2 separate regions of the Homo sapiens genome follow, and region 1 is linked to region 2. A link means that fine-mapping ties the variant in region 2 to the expression of a gene that starts in the linked region. Tissue or cell type: tibial nerve. Region 2 holds a variant in brackets; the other region holds the start of a gene. All regions are shown on one strand. Distances are from middle to middle.

Region 1 (5,600 bases), 190 kb after region 2:
AACATCATAGACTCTCTTAGCTTTTCAGTTAAGTTATCCAGAACACAGCATTTGATTACTGAGAATCTGAACTTGCTCCTATATGTCTCCATTTTTCCCAACAACAGGTATGCCTCTGACCTTCTTTTTCATCCCCACAGCTACTCCTCCTCTTTCCACAGTGAGTCAAATAGAAAACCCTATTTATAATAAATTGGAATTACATTTAGTTTAATAACATTAAATTCTAATTCTAATCATTTTAATAACATTAAATTATAATTTTTAAAGTATCCTAATGAAGATCTGATTTCTTGAATGGAGGACTTACTAAAGTGCTTAGATGCCGGAACTTGCTTTATGTTTAGTCTTATAGAAGTCATATATGATTGGTAATTAGCAGGTTACAACCTCTTGCATTTAAAGATGCCAGATGAGTCATAAAAGGCATTCTCAGTAATACACTATTCAACTTATCGCTAAAATAAAAGAGAATGGAAATTAATTTCAAAGTACAGAATCATTTGGCATCTTTTTTGGCATTAATACCATAAATATTTTCACTAGATCTACTTGGTCCTAAGAGGATAATAGAGATCAGTTCCAATCAAATAATGTGAAAGGAATTGATTGTATGCATGTGTGTGTGACTTGAAGCATTTTGAAATTATTGCAGCTAAGGAAGAAAAGGACTCATTACCTCACCTACTCTTTTTGCCAGTTTAGGCTTGTCCTTGCTCTGTGTCCTCATTTTGCTTCCTCTTATATTTTCTTGAACAAATCATGATGTAACTGGATAGGGTTTCCTTTATTCACTCTGTTAAGAACCTAAGAAACACCAGATAGTACTTCTAAACTAGCTTTCCTGGAGACTACACCATCTCACTTTTAGATGCTCTCTCATTTGGATTTTCTTTTACAAAGAAAAGTATTCTGAAGAACCAGATTTTACGGCTATTTAAATATGAATGTTAATACATTATAAAGGCTACCAGAAGGTGAAATCCTTCACCACAGTGACTTAAAAAAACCTAGGCTATTGATTTGAAGCTAATCTAAAACTTTTTCCAGAAAGTTCCATATAAAGTATGTAATCAAATTATAAGGATAATTTGAGGATGTCCATATAGTCACCTTCTAAGAGTGCAGTTGGTATTTAAATAAAAATCTAATCATGTATCAACATAGATCTTCTTTTAAGGTGGTTGAGGATTATGTTGTTTGATGGTGTGTATACATGAGTTTGTATTTTGAGCTAACAAATATTTAACTTACTATGCTAGGCACTTTAGAAGCATTATTTAACTCTGACAACAATGTGAATTATGAGGTAAGTGTACTAGTACGCCCCACATTTCACAGATAAGGAAAATGAGGCTCGGAGAAGCTATGCAACTATCCAAGAGCACAGAGAAGCAGAAGAGCAGGTCTTGAACCCAGGTCTGCCTCAGACCAAAGTTCCTGTTCCTAACCACTATCTAAATTTCCCCCAGATTCTCTAAATACAAGCTTAGTACCTAACCCTTAACAAGTTTATATACCTCAGTCACAAATTGGCACAGAAAAAAAGCAGTTTGGAAAATAAATGTTCTCTGTACAGGAAGTCTTGGTACAGTTAGCCCTGTGTTCATTGCAGCACGCATGTGCTGGGATTGGAGTCATGCCTATTCTAGATTTTCTTATCCAGTGTCAGATTTCTAATCCATTTAAGCCCATTTGCAAAGTCATTCTATTTTTGAACTAATGGCTTAGAAACAGCTGGAACTATTTTAGCCAAAATTTTGAAATCTCAGATATCTATAAAAAGAAAAAAAAAATGGTCCACTTCAATAATCCAGAGGCCTGCAACACTGAATTCCCTTTCACTAAAGAGAATTGGCATGAATCCCTTAAACCCTCAACTACTTTAGGAAAAGACAAAATACGCATATGAATGCTGTAACCTGCACTGATGACAGTGATGATCCAGGAACATTTCATCAGGGGTCAAAGATTCCTGTTATTACAGCTGGAAGACTCATGTATATTTCTTCCTTGGCTTCATTTCAACTTTTAGAAAAGGAAAAATTCCTATTCTCTCCTAAAGCAAGTATACAAATTCTACTGCTTAAAAATTATTCGATGATGCTTAAGTCTCCCCTTTATAAGATCTTTCAAAGTCCCCAGTATGCTTTTTTTTTTTCAATATGGGCAAAACTCTACTAATAAATAACTAAGGTTCTTCTGAAAAGTGGTCTGTTGCCTCCTCCCTTGGTGAAGGGAAATTTGCAGGTGTCTTCTCTGATTAAGTAAGGTCCAACCCAACAGTTTTCAAACTTGAGCAAGCACTAGCATTACCTGGAGGGCTCATTAAAACACAGGTTTCTGGGCACCAGCCTCAGGGTTTTAGGTTCAGTGGGTCTAGGGCGGAGCTAGAGCCCTAGATTTTGTTTGTATTTCTCAAAGTTACCAGGTGCTTGCTGCTGCGGGCCAGATGCCACACAGCGAATCACTGCTGTAGTTCGCTGCTTTCTATATTCGACTGCACTTTGGAATCACCTGACAAAAGTTTTAAATATGTTAATGCTCAAAGTCCCACCCCCAGAGATTCTGAGTAATTGGTCTGGGGTGCTGCTCAAGCATCGATTTTTTTAAAGGTCCCGGAGTGAGTCCATAATGCAGCAGCCGTAAAGAACCTCTGGCCCACTCAACACAGCCCCAGACCCACAGCTCTGCGCGCTCAGCGCCACGTGTGGACGCTGGAGACCCTTCCAAGAAGCTAAAAGCTGAGGGTGGGGTTGAGCTCAGGGGAGTAAATCAACGCACGTTATCGTACTCAGAAGCCAAACACTCCAAGGCAGGAATCTGCACCCAGAGAACCTCCCAAGATTCATTAACATGAAGTAACTTTGCAAGACAAATCCTGACATCTCAGCCTCCAGCTGGGCGCGGAATTCACCGAACAGTTCACCAACTGCTTTGGCGCAGGGAGAAGACTGCACCCCCAGGAAACCCAAAATGCCAAATTGCAGCCCCTGGAGAGCCAGCCCTGAGGCCCCCCGAGATGTCATTCTGGCAGCGAGAGGGGAGTAGGAGGTGTCTCCTTACCTGGCGCAGTGTCCAGGCTCGGGGTTGCCGTCGCAGCCAGCTGAGTGTTGCGCCAGGGGGACAGGTATGTTCCAGGCAGTGGCAAGCCCAACCCGAGCAAGACCTGCGCTGAAACGGATTGGCTGCCCTCCGCCCGGAGTCCGTTCTCCCTGCAGCGGCCAGTGCAGAGCTCAGAGGCTCAGAAACTCGCTCTCAGCCCCCTGGAGGCGGAGCCCGGGAGATAAGGTTCGCGCTCCCCACCCGCCCCCTTTCCTTGGCCGAAGACCAGAGGGTGGATTTTGGATCTGGATCTTGAAGGGCGAACTGCTAGTGTCGCCCTGGTGGAAACACTCAGTTCAAATCCTGCTAGCATCAGAAAATGCACGATTGAGGATTGAAAACGAGGGTGAAGGAGGACCAGGGAAGCGCGAGGAGAGAGGCAAAATAAGGGACTGCCAGGAAAGCAGGAAAGGCAACTCAGTTGAAAGGGCAAGCACTAAAGGAGGCAAAGACTTGGGCAACACCAGAGCATCGCCTGCACTGATCGAAGGAGGCCTGCCTCCCTTGCCCAAGAAGAACCCCCCTCTGGGGCGCCAAGGTACGTTGCAGCGGACTGATGTTCCTTGCTTTCAACCAAAAGTAACAGCTGCTCCAAAACCTGAGGGAAGTTCACTTTCAAATAGTCAAGTAGGCAGTGACCTTTAAGGGTTTAGCAATTACAAAGGAAGCCTCGGAATAAGGTGACAGCCTTATGACAAGATAAAGATGCTGTCTGCTCTGCCCCTTTGAGTGCATTCTTCACAGAGCAGCCAGAAAGTTATTTAACATTCATATGCTTTCCCTATTATCTGCAACTCTTCTTTTCTCACCCGTGTGCACCCCTCCTACCCCAACACACACAAGACCTGTTTGCCCTTTCTTATACACACCAGTGTGTTCTCATCTCACTTGGCATTTCTTCTGCCTCCAAAACTCTGTCCCAGACCTTATCATAGTTGCTTGCTTCTGTTCATCAAATTATCCACTCTTTGTGACACTTTGAGACACTTTGAGAGTGAGTCCTTCCTGTACATCCCATCCAAATGGAATGCCCAACCCCACTTTGGTTTCAACAGATCACTTATTGCTATCTGAAGGTTTTCATATCTTCATTGCTTGTGTGTGTTTCCTATCCAACTCAAGGTATGCTCTATGAGGGCAGGAAATTGGTCTTGTTCCCAGCTGTGTCCCCTGAGCCTAGAACAATACCTGGAATATACAAGGTGCTCAATAAATATTGGCTAAATGAATGTGTGAATTAATTTCTCCCTGTGGGAACAGGTTCACAAAGAAATGCCTTCTTCAATAACTAAATCTCACTTAATTCAGGTGTGATACAAACATCTTCAAATGATCATTTCCTGAATTTCCTTATTCATTCATGTTAGATTCTACTGTTACAAAAATATGATAGGAGAACATTGCTTTGGATTTGGTAACATCTTCTTAGATATGACACCAAAAGCACAAGCAATTCAAGAAAAAATAAGTTAGACTCCATCAAAATTTAAAATGTTGTGCTTCAAATCACACTATCTAGAAAGTAAACAGCCCACATACTAAGAAAATATTTGCATACCATCTATACAATTAGATTCTTGTGTCCAGATATACAAAAATCTTACAACTCAAGAGTAAAAAGACAGTTTTAAAATGCACAAAGTATTTAGACGTTTCTCCAAAGAAGATCTACTAATGGCCAATGAGAACATGAATGAATGCTAAACATAATTAGCCATTGGGGAAATGAAAATTAAAACCACAAGCAGATACACTTTATACCACTAGGATGGCTAAAATAAGAAAAACAATAAGTGTTAGGGAGGATATGGAGAAATTGGAACACTCATATATTCCTAGTGGGCTTGTAAAAATGATTAAGCCACTTTGGAAAACAGTTTGCCATTCTCTAAAATGTTCAATGTAGAGTTAACTTATAACCTGACAAATTCATTCTTCAGTAGATAGCCAAGAAAATCAAAAACATATATCCACATCAACACTTCTATATGAATATTCATAGGAATGTTACTCATAAAGCCAAAGGCAGTAACAACCCAAATGTCTATCAGCGGATGAATGGATAAGAAAAGTGTTATATCGCTACAATGGAATATTATTCTGACATAAAAAGGAATGAAACACTACATGCTAAATCATGGTTGAACCTGAGCATGTTAGCTAAAAGAAGCCAGTCACACACACAAAAAAACACTTATTGTATGATTCTGTCAATATAAAATGTTCAGAATAAGCAAATCCATAACTACTTGAAGTACGTAGTAAATCCATACCTATAATACATGAAGTGCTGGTAGAAGGAAGAAATGGGAGTGAGTGTTAATGGGAATGGGGTTTGCTTTGGGGTGATAAAAATGCTCTGGAGTTCGTGCTGATAGTGACGATTTTGAATATACTAAAAACTACTGAATTGTTGACTTTAGAATGGTCAATTTTACAGTATGTGAATTATATATCAGTTTTAAAACACTGATTTGTACCCTTTTAGTGGGTAA
Region 2 (5,600 bases):
ATCAATATGGCTGCATAGTATTCCATGGTGTATATGTACCACATTTTCTTCATCCAGTCTATCATTGATGTGCATTTAGGTTGATCCCATGTATTTGTTATTGTGAATAGTGCTGTAATGAACATAATGTGTGCGTGCAACTTTAAAATAGAACGGTTTATATTTCTTTGGGTATATACCCAGTAACGGGATTGCTAGGTCTAGCAGTATTTTTGGTTTTAGGTCTTTGAGAAATCATCATACTGTCTTCCACACTGAACTAATTTACATTCTTACCAACGGTGTATAAGCATTCGTTTTTCTTCACAACCTCACCAGCGAAATCATGTTCTTTGCAGGGATGGATGGAGCTGGAGGCCATTAAACTTAGCAAACTAACCCAGGAACAGAAAACCAAATACTGTATGTTCTCACTTATAAGCGGGAGCCTAATAATGAGAACACATAGACACATGGAGGGGAACGATACACACTGGGGCCTACTGGAAGGTGGAGGGTGGAGGTTGGGAGGAGGGAGAAGATCAGGAAAAATAACTAATGGGTACTAGACTTAATACCTGGGTGATGAAATAATCTGTATGACAAACCCCCATGACACAAGTTTACCTATGTAGCAAACCTGTACAGGCACCCCTGAACTTAAAGTAAGCTAAAACAGATACTAATATGAGAATTTTGGAATCTGTAAAATTTCTCTGTGAAAACCTACTTTTGAGAAGGCATAACCCAGGAATAACACAGTGGGTTATCATTTATGTTCCTTATTTCAAATGTGTTATTAGGGGCAAAATAAAACTTTGGTTAAGATATTCCAAAGATAAATCTTTGCAGCTAAATTTAAACTATGAGTTGATTTCTGGTCTTTCGCCTTAAAACTACAGAAGTGAATCTGAATCTGAGGCATCCCTCTGTGTTCCCCATTCTGTTTCCCAGTCCTCAAAGACGAGGCTCTCAGTGCTTTAGGCACAGAGGTGCTAACCTTTTGTGTTATTTCATACAACCTATTGTGCCTGGATTATGGTGACATGTCCTTTGACTATTAATTGCAATCTGTAGATAATGATAAGAGCAAGTTTCTGCCTCCCCAAGGTGAGGCACAGCCAATAGGCCAGATCTATAATTTAGGACTACCAGGAGTGAGCTTTGAACCTTGCCTTTGGCGATAACGTTATCAATCAGAAGAATTAACCAAACCTCCTAGCTGAGGACTTTAACAAATGGAACTATGCAAAGGTAAAGCAGATAGGCAACACATCAAAATATAAACGGCTTAATTGTGATTTAGGTATTCAACTTATGAGAACAATTTTTTTCTTCTTTGGAATAATTAAGTTGTAAGAAAATAAATCTAGCCATACTTTTAAAAATGAGAAAATGTTCAGGCTAAAGATATATAGTTATAACTTATAAGACTTACAAGATTAATATAATGAAGAAGAGATTATCATAGTGTGTGTGTGTGTGTGTGTGTGTGTGTGTGTGTGTGTGTGTGTGTGTGTGTGTGGCTGCCCTCTACTGGGGACCGAAGGACGAGTTCTCAATTGAGTTCTCCCAGCTCAATTTCAGTTGAAAATCTCTTCATGACAAAAATTAAATCAAGCACCTAGCAAAGTTCTAAGCACCAGAGACAAAGTATAGTACCACAAGACTATAAATCCTAAAGGTTTTTTTTTTTTTCTAAATTGACCCTACTTTACATTTTAGAGGAAAATCGTTGAAATTATGCAAAGACAGCCTTTACTGAGAATGATTTTTACCCTTAAGACTGAGAGTTTCATTCTGAATTGACATTCAGGATGAATGCCAATGAGTCAGATCAGCTTTATTCAGTATCAGTTACACACATATAAAATGATTTTAGTACTTTTAAAATTTTTTCACTCTCAAGATTTGGTAACCTTGGCTGGGCGTGGCAGCTTACGCCTATAATCCCAACACTTTGGGAGGCTGGGGCAGGCAGATCACTTGAGGCCAGGAGTTTGAGACCAACACTTGAGGCCAACATGGTGAAACCCTGTCTCTACTAAAAATACAAAAATCAGCTGGGCATGGTGTTGGGTGTCTGTAATCTCAGCTACTCGGGAGCCTGAGGCAGGAGAATCACTTAAACCTGGGAAGCGGAGGTTGCAGTGAGCCGAGATTGTGCCACTGCACTCCAGCCTGGGTGACAGAGCAAGATTCTATCTCAAAGAAAAAAAAAAAAAAAAGGCTGGGCATGATGGCTCACATCTGTAATCCCAGCACTTTGGCAGGCCGAGGCGGGCAGATCACCTGAGGTCAGGAGTTCAAGACCAGCCTAACCAACAGGGAGAAACCCGTCTCTACTAAAAAAACAAAATCAGCCAGGCATGTTGGCACATCCCTGTAATCCCAGCTACTCCAGAGGCTGAGGCAGGAAAGTCACTTGAACCTGGGAAGCAGAGGTTGCAGTGAGCCGAGACCATGCTATTGCACTCCAGCCTGGGCAACAAGAGCGAAACTGTCTCAAAAAAAAGAAAAAAAAAAAGATTTGGTAACCCCATATTTTCTGTCTAGTTCTAGTAAATTGTATGACTTTATTTCACTGATGAATTTCTTTTGTTTTCTCTCATTTAATCTTTTTAATACTATGAAGTAAGTATTATTAATATCCTCAACTTATCATATGAAAGAATTTAAGTACAAAGATGTAAATAAATTTTCTGAAGCCTCGCAGCTAGAAACAAAACGTAGGAATTTTGATGCAGGAAATCTCAGGACAGAAGCCATGCTCTCAGCAACCACACTAAAAGGCCTTTCACGTAACATGGTGCTGAGCACGTAACATAGTTATGTTGCAAAAATGTACTTGCAGAGCAAGATTATTCACCTATTCATTCTTGAAAATCAGCGTGTTATGAGTTAGTCTTAAATTTCTCCAAGGCAAAACTATGACACAATGTATGCCATGCTAAATTATGGAAATATTTCATCCTGAGATGCCAAATTTTAAAGCAGAAATACTGAAAGTAAATATAGTTTACATTCCATAGATTTTGTTGTTCTTGGAATTCTTCATGCTTTTTCTAACCCTCCACCCTTTGCTCATTTTCATTATCTTTACATGACTTAGTTATGCCAATACCTCCTAGCCTACTATAATCTGCACTACTCTGCTTGGAATGCCATAACAAAATATCATTGACTTGCTGGCTTAAGCAACAGAAATTTTTGTTCATACAGTTCTGAAGGCTGGAAGTTCGAAATTAGGGTGCCAGTATAGTCGGGTTCTGGTGAGGTCCCTTTTCCAGGTTGCAGAGAGTCACCTTTCACAATGTACTCACATAGTCTTCCCTGGATGTGAGAGCTAGAAGGCCATGAGGTAGATGAAGCAGATGAAGGGAGGGAGG[G/A]TAGTAGGGGAGAGCAACCTCTTCCTCTTCTTATAAAGCCACCAATTCTATGGGATTAGGACTCCACCCTTATGACCTCATTTATCTTGGTTACCTCCTGAAAGCCCTATATTCAAATATAGTCACATTGGGGGTAAGGGCTTCCATATATGAATCGGGGGCATACAATGCAGTCCATAACATCATCTTTTACATTTCAATTGCATTTTCTCCATTCTTAGAATTAATATATTGGAATCACCTGTACACTTACCTGTGTCTCGTTATACATGTGTTCCCTCAGGCCAAATTCTAACTATATTGCCATTGTATCCCAGGCACCGAACCTATCCATGTGGTGAGTACTGTTGGATGAATAAATCAATGATACCAAATGGCTTTATTCTGATTCTTTACCAGCTCTTAGAAGCAAATGTCATAATTAAAGCAGGGGTGATAGGTTTGTTGGCTTAAGCAGATACCTGGGCCTTTACTGGAGATAAAACACCAGAACAAGCCTTATGCTCATTCAGCCACTAAACATCATAAATTTTAGTCCCCTCCAAAGTCCTCATCAAAATAATAGAATTTGCACGACAATAAAGTTAAACACTGGGCAACAGCCATGACTGTGCTAGGAAGCAAGTGTTTCAACTGTTCAGGTGTGTAGCACACCAATTCAATTTGTAATTTCTTATTTCAGGTGAACACATTTTTTAAGAATAGGCTGAATGATTTCATAAATTATATCCATTGAATAAATGACCATGCAATATACATACCATACTCAACAATCAGTTAAAATTAGGTATAAAAAAAGACATTGTAATCAGGCCTGTACAAAACTTTATTATACTCTGAATAACAAGCATGTAACAAAATTTTGAGCATGACAAGGATGAAATATTTCAAATTCTGTTTCTTACAAAAGCATTAAGCACAATACACAAAGACTGTTCATAATATTTTACAGTCAGCTAAAAATAACAAGACATTCTAGGATTTCAGGAGTTTTCCTTTTCTTTCAACTAGAGCATTAGCTTTATTTCCATTAGCTTTGCTACAATGAAAATTAACATATATGGACATACACATATAAGTGAAATGGAAAATGAAGGCATACAACAAACATTCCGATTAATCAACAAGTATAAAATAGTCTTTTAGTACTTCCAAACTTACATTTTCTTTGAATGTACAATGAAACTTTTTGTCTAAAATGTTTTTAATGTTAATTTTGACCATTCCCAAAGTAATTAATACTCTTTCTTAGCACCACCATTAATCTAATTTTAGAGTTTGAAATGAATTAAGAAACACTCTAATCTTATTCAGAGGTGCTATTCACAACACCGAACAACAGGCAATCCACTGCCCCTTATCAAGGCTGAGACACTGTAGTAAATGAGTAGTTCACCAATACTGTCTATCCCAGGTGAATATCAGCCCTGATCTTACTTCCAATGATGAGATACATGTTTTGGCTTATGTAGTAGCATGAGCTATGAGATAGGAAACATGAAAGTCACATGGACATGAAATTAAACTCAAATCTCTACTGCATGGAGGCTGAATGTGAAATATTTCACAGTGACTAAAACTGACTGGCTAACAGGCAATGGTGGATTTTTATATTCAACTTTGATTAACATAAATGGACTTTACAAGAAACCCTTGAGATTTAATTAATGCTGCTAATCCAAGGGCTCCAAATGACTGAGGAGCCTTTAAAATCAGTATATGTGATCTTTTATATTTTTTTCCATAAGAAAAAAAAAATAAAAACACCGAGGTACTTAAGTTTCTTTTCAAGGGATTACTGTTGGTTATCTTCCTGAGATGCAAAAGACCACAGAAAAAGCACCATGCCTAGGCTGCTGAATGAGGCATCAGACACTAATAGTTTGGTCCTTTTCTGAACGGATCTCTTCTGGCAATTACACTAAAACATAGTGATGGGTCGCAGATGCCTGGGGGGCCTGGTTGCCCTTGGATTCCAGGTTTTCCATGGTCTCCATCTTTGCCAGGGAGACCTGGGTCTCCTGGAGGACCTTCTTTGCTTATTCCAGGAGGGCCCTCTGGACCTAAGATGGGACATTGGCAAGACGTAAACAGAGGACTTTAGTTTTTTATAATGAAATAGCCAATTCTGCAAGAAACTTAAACTGAAAAAAAAAACCTTGAATATTTTATATATTTGCACTAATTATATAGTAGAGGCATTTTCTTGATAATTCTACATGTCTTCTGCTT

What was found. PIP is the estimated chance that this variant, and not a neighbour inherited with it, causes the effect.
Region 1: it holds the start of COL21A1, and the variant in region 2 is the best candidate, but not a certain one, in a credible set for the expression of COL21A1 in tibial nerve (GTEx, PIP 0.65).

Annotation. Positions count from the first base shown.
Region 1 is chr6:56,244,321-56,249,920 of GRCh38, forward strand. It overlaps COL21A1 (collagen type XXI alpha 1 chain), which reads right to left and starts at 3,260. Exons shown (of 30, transcript NM_030820.4): 1 at 3,067-3,260. RefSeq lists enhancers at 2,159-2,660, 2,661-3,160.
Region 2 is chr6:56,052,414-56,058,013 of GRCh38, forward strand. COL21A1 (collagen type XXI alpha 1 chain) reads right to left here. Exons shown (of 30, transcript NM_030820.4): 30 at 4,177-5,431. The coding sequence ends at 5,244. Among named protein-coding and RNA genes, the nearest start is that of BMP5, 180 kb to the left of the region's middle. The variant G/A (reference allele first, on the strand shown) is at 3,369.